Linked DNA regions of Homo sapiens: region 1 is linked to region 2. Evidence: fine-mapped expression QTL. A gene starts in region 2. The other region holds a variant in brackets. All regions are shown on one strand. Distances are from middle to middle. Region 1 has its middle 41 kb from the start of RASGEF1B. Region 2 holds the start of RASGEF1B (RasGEF domain family member 1B).

Region 1 (4,397 bases), 41 kb after region 2:
CTTACCACAGAGGAAGAAAAGAAATTGTATTTCAATATAAAAAGTCACAGTAAATGTTAAGCTCCATGTTTGATTGACAGTCACCCACACACCCACATACACTAAAACTAGCAGCTATAAATTTGAAGCATTTGTAAGACCCAGGGGATTTCTAGAGTGTGTGACAATCCAGATATATGTGCCTCGTTTACCCACAGAAGCGGTCTCCTGTGGGGGAAATGTACTGTGACATCCATTTTGATAGGTAACAGGCACATTAAGATGGAATTACCTCAGCTGGAATATGACTGTGATAACAGGAATAGAGAAACACTGGACCAGAAAAACTACGGGGCATCCTTAGGGAACATGCTCAGTTCCCTTAAAAACATGTACAGTCATTTGTTCAGAATTGGCTGGGGGGAGTTGAAATGATCAATACCTCTTCCCAAGGTATCCGTGTATTCTGCAGACATATCTTCGGCAAATAATTGCTCAAAATATAACTGTCCAAGCAGTATTTGGCAAGTATTGGATCTGAAGTCTGATTCACTTCATAAATTTGCAACCTTAGTGACATGCAACACAAGCTAATTCACTATTCTTCTGCTTATTTTTCCATATATCCAATACTGAATAGTAAACAAAGTCTGTAAAGAGGGGCCTGAAGATGTTCATATTTATACCTATTCTAGGCACAATAGGATTTCTTTCCTTCTTAAAATATTAGGATAGGAACCAACAATAAGGATATATGGAAAGGAACAAAAAAATTATTCTACCCAAATGATGTTTCAGGAATATGCTGTAATTTTTTTAATTCTCACTTATTACTGGCAAAAGGCATATTTTGGAAGTTGCAAAAGTCAGAACCTGAGACACATAAATGATAAAAAGGTGTTATTGGTAAAGTATACTGAGACCATTGAGAGGCAGGTACTAAAATAAAATAGCACTCCTGTGAAGCGACATACAAATAGAATTTCTATTTAAAAAACAAATCCTCAGTCACTTCCCTTGTTTGCCAGACTTTTACAAATCCTCAGTTACTTCCCTTGTTTGCCAGACTTTTTCTTTCTCATGACTCCCTGTCTCTAATGTTATAATGGCCCCAATAATTAAAGCATTTGACCTCAGGAATCTACCCATTTGGATGGTGAGTATATTTCAATTATTATATTGAATTAAACTTTAGTTTGAGAAAGGCTTTCTGGGAAAGATGAGTCAAATTTAAGTAAGTATAAATTGGTCTTTTGGCCACCATGTTTCTTGGGATTATAATGTTCCCAAGATATTTAATAATCTCATTTGGGTCAACACTGCAATTGACTTGAATGGCAGAACTCCAAGGGAAGGTGCTATGCTGGGTTGGGCACTTAATGATGCTGCAGCTGTGTTTTCCCTCGAGAGAGTGGTCCATTATGGAAATGGAATCTCCAGAGTGGGATTTAAGTAGGGGTAGTCAAGACAACACTTTGCAATGTCAGTGAAGATCTGATTGACCGTTTGGGTGGAAGACAGGACACACACTGTAGCTGGGATAGTGGTAACATCCATTTCAGTGCAGATTACTGCATTCTCTCAAATTCCTGCTGTCATTCCAATTAAAATCAATAGTCTTCTTTCTTACCAATTCTCTCAAATGTGTAGGTTGCTGCAACCTGCCAAGAATGTATTAGATTTCCTTAATAAAGATAGATACATCACAGCAGTGGGTTAAGTGATACGGCTAACAGTTAATTCTTGCTTCATTAAGCCAAACCAAATAATTCTCATTTAAATGAAGAAACCCATCCTGCTTCCCGGTAACTATTTGGTATTGAAGCAGCAATGAAAACTCAGGCCATGTAAGCTTCACTTCTCTTTAGGGACTCCTAGGGCATTTCCACTAGTACCCCATGGAGAATGATAAACATTCAAAACAAAGTGATACTTGTCCAAGGAAATGCATAAAATAAGCTTTGTGAAACCTCTTCCTAGAGTTTGTGTTTTTAAAAAAATGTGTGTGTTCACTCTCTTGTTCAATCATGAAAATGTGAGAATCCTCCATGGGCCTCCCAGACATTAGTATGAATTAGAAAATCCTACTGAATAATCTCCACAAATCATCTCGTGCAAAGTGCCTGGGCTTTACAGACTAAGTGCACATTATACATATAAATCATTATCACTTTGGGGTTGATTAGAAAAGGGCAGGTATTTTGCAGTCCCGGCAGTGTGTGTATGCCTGTAGCAACTGATTAGCTATTTCAAATTAATAGCTTGAAATTAAAACAAGCCTGGGGTTAGAATAAAGGGAAATGGTTTTTCTATGTAAGGAAAGCTTCAGCCTCCTCAGAAAGCCCCCCCCTCCTCCCCCTCCCCCTTTCCCTTCCTCTTATTATGCAGCCTCCGAATGATGTCTGTCAGCTAGAGGAATTACATGTGTATGACTTAGCATGTGAGTTTCCAGATCTCACAGGCAGGAGAAATGATGGGAATAACTGGAAACAACCAAGATGTCAATAAAATGTATTTTTCTGTAGTCATCCCACAAAAAGGCCTTGAAAGTTTCTCAGGGGGAGTTTTCCTCCTGTGAGACAGGATGAACCCTCCCTCCCTCTGCTATAGCTCAGGAGATGC[G/A]GTTGGCCTCCCCCCAGCATGCCCACTACACAACACAGGTGTCCCCCATTCAGTGAGAAACCAAAGAGAAAGAAAAAGCTTAACAGAGAAAAAGATATTAAACAAATACTCTGTTTCCAGGGCAGCTGGGGGCACAGGAACAGGGAGAATGGGTAATGTGGTTGAGGTTTATAGGTAGAAAAAGGAACTGGGTTTTAATGAAAAAATTTTTTTTAATTTGCTTTTTTGCCATTTTGCCTTCTTAGTATACTGGGCCTAGGTTTTGTTTTGGAAAGTATTAGAAATCAAACTTGCACTATCTTACTTTGTCTTCTAAAGTTAAGCAAGAGAGAAATGAAGAAAAACAATGTGGATCTTTGAAAGACCCTTTTCCAGGCAATAGAAAATATACTTTGATATTCTTGCTGCCTCTCCAAAAAGTCTGGGAGCCTGAAGTTTGTCTAAACTCAGGATTTCTTAGTTAACTAACCTGGGCAAGGTTTTTATTTCCCTACTGACTTCATTTCCCTGATGATTCCCCTTATGTTTCCATATTTTATTTGATAATGATAAGCTGTCTTCTATGCAATTTTAATTTTATTTTAAAAGAAAGATGATAATGCCATTTTATAGGCAAAACTAATTTTTTCATGAAATTACCCACTAAGAATGCATAGTAACATACTCCTCAGTCTTAAAGATTGCTACCATTGCAAAATATTGAGTAAAAAGAGGGGAAAAAAAGAAATGCTTTGACATCAAACATCTGTTTTCAGATTCCAGCTCTGCCACACACTAGCCATGTGGCACTGGGCAAGTAACTTAGCTTTTGTGAACATCTGCTTCTTCATCTCTAAAAGGTAAGGTTAATAATAAATGCTTGGCAGCATTTTGTGAGGATTACTTTAGATAACAAATACCCATCATGGCAGATAGTATGTATCCATTTCCTTCATTCTCTGCCTCCCAATTTGAAAGTGCTTTCTGGAGATTCAGTCTAATTGGTATCCACAGTCCAGTCAGCTCTGTGGTAGGCATTAGGAGAAATGACAAGGAAGCAAAAAACCAAACCTAGGTCTCAAAAGAACAGTCCTTTGTTTGAGCAGACAAGATGTATGAATAAAATGCAACTGGGAAGCAAGTAGAGCACATACAGACAAGTTATTAGATGTTATGGTATAAACAGCAGATGCCAAGAAAGATTATGGGAATGAGATGGGTTTTATTTAGGTTTTTTTGATACACAGAATTTTAATTGGCATAAGCAAAACAGACCACTTTAAAAACAAATAAACTCAGGAGACTTCTTTAACTGAAAGAATATAGGTTAAGATTTGAAGGTAGAAATGAACAGAGCATATGTCTTCAAGAAACTGACCTACTTGGAATAGAGAGCTTCATTGGGGAAAATGGCTCAAAAAGAGTATATTGGGACCAGTCAACAAAGAGCCTTGAAGATTATCCTAACTAATAACATCTGATTTATGAGCCCTTCAGAAAAAGAACGACAGCAGAATTTTGGAGAGGTTATTGCTATCTAGGATGGACTGGAGACAAATTTTGGGTCAGAAACTCTGCTAGGGTCATGTGCATGGAGGTGAGTTAAGCTGTTTTGTGCTACTTGGATGCTTCTTTCTACAGTGTATGTTTCAAGCCATAGGCTCATTGTTTCACCAATTTTTCTATATAGATGGTTTGATCCATGTTCACTAAACTCAGGAGAGACTGGCTTATAAAAGCTAATTTAATAATATAGAAAATTACACATAATTATTAAGAGTAATGGGGTGTACATATATTAGGGAATTTAGCCTATC
Region 2 (4,397 bases):
TAGTAGTTAATTTTAGGTTCTAAGAATAAAATGTTATATAAGAACTATGTGTTATTATAATACTTTGATTTAGTTATACATATAAATACATATGTATATATGTACATATATGTGTATATATACACACACACACACACACATATAAATAATCTATTAGATGCTAAGCTGTAGGGGGTTAGCGGGAGACAATACATGGGAATGCTTTCTGGTGATTCTCTTCTCCAAAAGACAGTATGATTCCCAGGTATTAGATGTGTTAGTATCAGATAAAATATCCAGTGGAGCACATAAAATGAAGCAAGACTGAAAATGCACCATAGGAGAAATAAATTCTAAGAATGTAACACTTCGTTAGACAACTGGAAAGTACAAGGCCAATATGCTTAGTAGTTAGAAATGTTGCCCACCTCCAAGAAAACAAAGGATTGACCCGACATGCAGTGGAAGAATGCCAACAAGAAACTTGTTAATCAGTGGCTGATCTCATCTTCACCAGAAAATCTGCTTGAGAGGCATAATATAACGCTGTTTGTAAACCCTGATATCTGTCAAAAGTGCCCTAAGGTCCTCCTCTCTAGCTCCACCACTGCCCCTCACTTAAAAAAATAAAATTACCTTTAATGATAGGGTTTAACAAGCTGCCTTCTTTTTTTCTGTTATGAAAACCTCAACAGCAAATAATTTTTATTTCTTTTTATTAAAGAAAGCAACTCTATATTTGTTCTAAATCTCATGGGACCAGTTATTTTCACCCAAACGGCCAACCAGGTATATACGCTGCTTAACTGTAAACCTCCTTGTTTCTTAGCAGAGGCTTATCGCCATGGTCCAACTATGTTTTAAATTAAGGCATAGCCATCACATGCCAAGCTCTAGCTACTGTTTTCACGAGGAAAGGGCAATTATTCACCCCATCTGAGTGTGACTGTGCCAGACATCATTCAAGAGTGCACCACCCTGATCCCTAGACTCTTCCCCTTTATGCACCCAGTTCAGAGACCCTCCCTTCGGCCATTAGACCATCTGAGCTAAATATAGATCTACACACACCAGCAGTTCCTGACCGTCGTCACATGGTGCTGACGAAGGACTCCTTGGAGACGCGTTCGGCCCAAACACATACACAAATTTGTGTGCATATTCATCTATATACACCATATCCACCGAATTCATCAGGGAGGATGGACACATCTACATTCCGAAGAGAAAATCGCCGTCTAGACAATCTCCTTGTGTTATCTGCCACACTTGTGCCACCCTCGGCAGTGTCAGAGGATTAAGCTACGTTGCTTTTGCCTGAACTGCGCCGATTTGGTTGGGGCAAGACAGCAAGCAGTATTGAAATGGTACGTCCATACACACACACAAAGGCGCGCGCACCCCAGCCCCCGTCTCGCCCTTTTCCCTGGTGCAGCACTTAAGTTGTTTTCACAGCTCCCTTAGAAAGAACCTCCCTTAAGCTGACTGCCCGCGAGGCTCCTAGATACCTCTAGCTCATCTGAGATTCCCCAGGCAGGTGACCCGAGGCGACTCAACTGAGCTCTGGCAAAAGCAAGGCGACTCAGTGTCTCCCAAGTTTGCCAGGTGAACACCGAAGGATGACAGCACATCACCTTGTCGGTGGCGAGTATGTGACTTCTGTTCCCTTGTCCCTTCCTACGAGTCAGACTTTAGATTACATGGCACTGACAACAAAAATAAACAGCTCCCCCTACACACACACGCACACAAAACTGGTCAAGAAGTGGAAGAATCAACCTAGGTATGCACACGAAGGAAAGAAGGGATGAAAAAAATGATGGACGCGATTACAACTCAAGACAAATCCTCAAAAACCACCTATCTCGAGACAGAAGGCCTGGCTGCAGGATCAGGGAGAAAGAGGGAAGGCACAACCCAACCCAACCCAAGCCTGGCCCTGCCCGGGTCCCAGCGGCTCGGCCTCGCACCTGTTGGGGCCGCGGCAGTCCCAGGTACCCGCAGCGGCCGGGCAGGGGCCCTCCCCCGGTCCCGGGCTGTAACTCGGCTCTTGGCGCCCGCGTTCGCGCTCACTCGCCTCGGGATCTCCCGCCGCCTCGGAGCGCACCCGGCAGCCGGTGAAGTCTCTGAGCCCCGCTCGCTCCCCGCGCGGCCCAGGGATCTCCAGGGAGAGCGCAGCGCGCAGTAGGGTCCGGAGTTCCCGCTCCGGGCTGTGGTCCCCCAGCCGGGAGAACAACCCAGCCAGGGAACAACCTACCTGCAGGTGAACTCCGAGTCCTCGGCCTCCCGGCTGCGTGCCGCGCGCCCACAAATGCGACCAAAGGACAGGGAGCTAAAGCGCGCGGGAAGAAGAAAAACAAAATCTGTCTAACCAGTCGGGTTCCTTGTTTATACTGAAACTACGGCAGCCGCCGCCGCGCACGCCCCCCTTGGCTCAGGCGCCTGCCTCCCGCTGCCAGCCCCGCCCCGCCCCGGCAGGCGCGGGCCAATCACCGCGCAGCTCACCGCCCACGCCGCCGCCACCCGGCCCGGCAGGCAAGTCCCAGTGGGCCCCAGACTCCCGCAGCGCGTCAGCCTGGGTGCCCTCCCACGCGGCAGAGGCCCGCGGAGCCCAGCGCAGCGGTGTTTAACAGCGTTGGTCAGGCTGGCTCCGACTGTGCGCGTTTCCTCTTGAGTGCACCTGCCCCGGGCTGTTGTGCAGTCGTGAGTGTGTGTGTGTTCATTCACGTGTATACTATCTGTAAATACCGGCCCGACTCGTTACACAGTATTTATTAACATAATTGTGAGCTAAAGGTTACTGTCCATGTAACTTTCAGAAGAGAGCGGAGAGGAACCACAGAACATTTGCTTAGCAAATAACACATAGATCCTGGTGCTAAGCACTGTGCAAAACGCTGGGGGCACACTTGGCAAAGTAGGCTGGTCTCTGCCATTGTGAAACTTACATAGTCTAGTGGAGGACAGACATTCAGCAAATAATCACCCAAACAAAATGTAGAATTACAGCTGCTAGAAGTTGCACGGAGAGGAACCTGTTCCGTGAAACATGATTCCGGAGGCAAAGCAGGGAGGCTAGTCCTCAGTGAGGGCTGTGTTGTCATGGTAACCACGTACTCACTCCATCATGGGATATTTGATAACTATTTCAGAAAAAAGGTAAAAACCTCCGTACTTCACTTTGTACACATAAAAGGAGGCCAGAGGGAAATAATGATGGAAACAAGGGAAGAAAGAGACCTATGAAAAGAAAAAATTTACAGAATTAGGAGACTCTTACCAACTGTATTTCCTTGAGTAAGTGATACAGCTTTTCTGAGCTTCAGTTTTCTCATATATAAAACAACACTATTCATACCTGTCCTATACTGTTATAATTAAGATTACTGAGGGGGAGGAATCCTTTTCCCTCCTGCTCCATGGGTCCCTCCCCCTCTCCTTCCTGGGGTGGAGTCATTTTGACGCTCACTTTGTCTATTCTTAGCGGATTCCTCTTTCATTTTCTTCATTTATGCCTCCTTTTACTTTTCTTCCTCTTTATGATACTCCTTCCCTCCTTTGTGTAAATAGGACTCCTCTGATTCAGTAATTCACTCTAACCTACTTGAGCCTTTGACTTAACCATAGCTTCTCTGCAGTTTAAATGAGAAGCCATAAGGCCAAGGGAACTTGGTGGGCCAGCCATGCAGAGTGAAACACAGAGGCTGGGTGGCCCTGCCCTGCTGTTGTGGTTGTACTGGTTGGTTGATTTTTCAAGCTCAGTTTTTGCATCCCGATTCTGTAACAAACGAGCCATATGACATTGGGCCAGTCACTTACACCCTTGACATTACTGATCCTGTAGCCAGAAATTAAGAGTTGCAGGGGATTGCTGGCAAGATGGCTGAATAGGAACAGCTCCAGTCTGCAGCTCGTAGCGAGATTCACACAGAAAGCATGTGACTTCTGCATTTCCAACTGAGGTACCCAGTTCATCTCACTGGGACTGGTTGGACAGTGGGTGCAGCCCACGGGGAGTGAGCTGAAGCACGGTGGGGCATCGCCTCACCCGAGAAGTGCAAGGGGTTGGGGAATTTTCTCCTCTACCCAAGGGAAACCATGAGGGACTGAGCCTGAGGAACTCCAGCACAGATACTGTGCTTGTGCCAGTTTTCGCAACCCACAAACCAGGAGATTCCTTCCAGTGCCTACCCCACCAGGGCCCTGGGTTTCAAGCACAAAACTGGGTGGCCATTTGGGCAGACACCGAACTAGCTACAGGAGTTCTTTTTTTTTCCATACCCCAGTGGCGCCTGGAACACCAGCGAGACAGAACCGTTCACTCTCCTAGAAAGGGTTGCTGAAGCCAGGGAGCCAAGTGGTCTGGCTCAGCCGGTCCCACCCCAATGGAGCCCAGCAAACTAAGATCCACTGGCTTG

Evidence for each region. PIP is the estimated chance that this variant, and not a neighbour inherited with it, causes the effect. A credible set is the group of variants that fine-mapping cannot tell apart.
Region 1: its variant is the best candidate, but not a certain one, in a credible set for the expression of RASGEF1B in whole blood (TOPMed, PIP 0.74).

Annotation. Positions count from the first base shown.
Region 1 is chr4:81,510,746-81,515,142 of GRCh38, forward strand. No RefSeq gene overlaps it. Among named protein-coding and RNA genes, the nearest start is that of RASGEF1B, 41 kb to the left of the region's middle. The variant G/A (reference allele first, on the strand shown) is at 2,602.
Region 2 is chr4:81,469,534-81,473,930 of GRCh38, forward strand. It overlaps RASGEF1B (RasGEF domain family member 1B), which reads right to left and starts at 2,374. Exons shown (of 14, transcript NM_152545.3): 1 at 2,237-2,374. RefSeq lists a silencer at 2,306-2,715.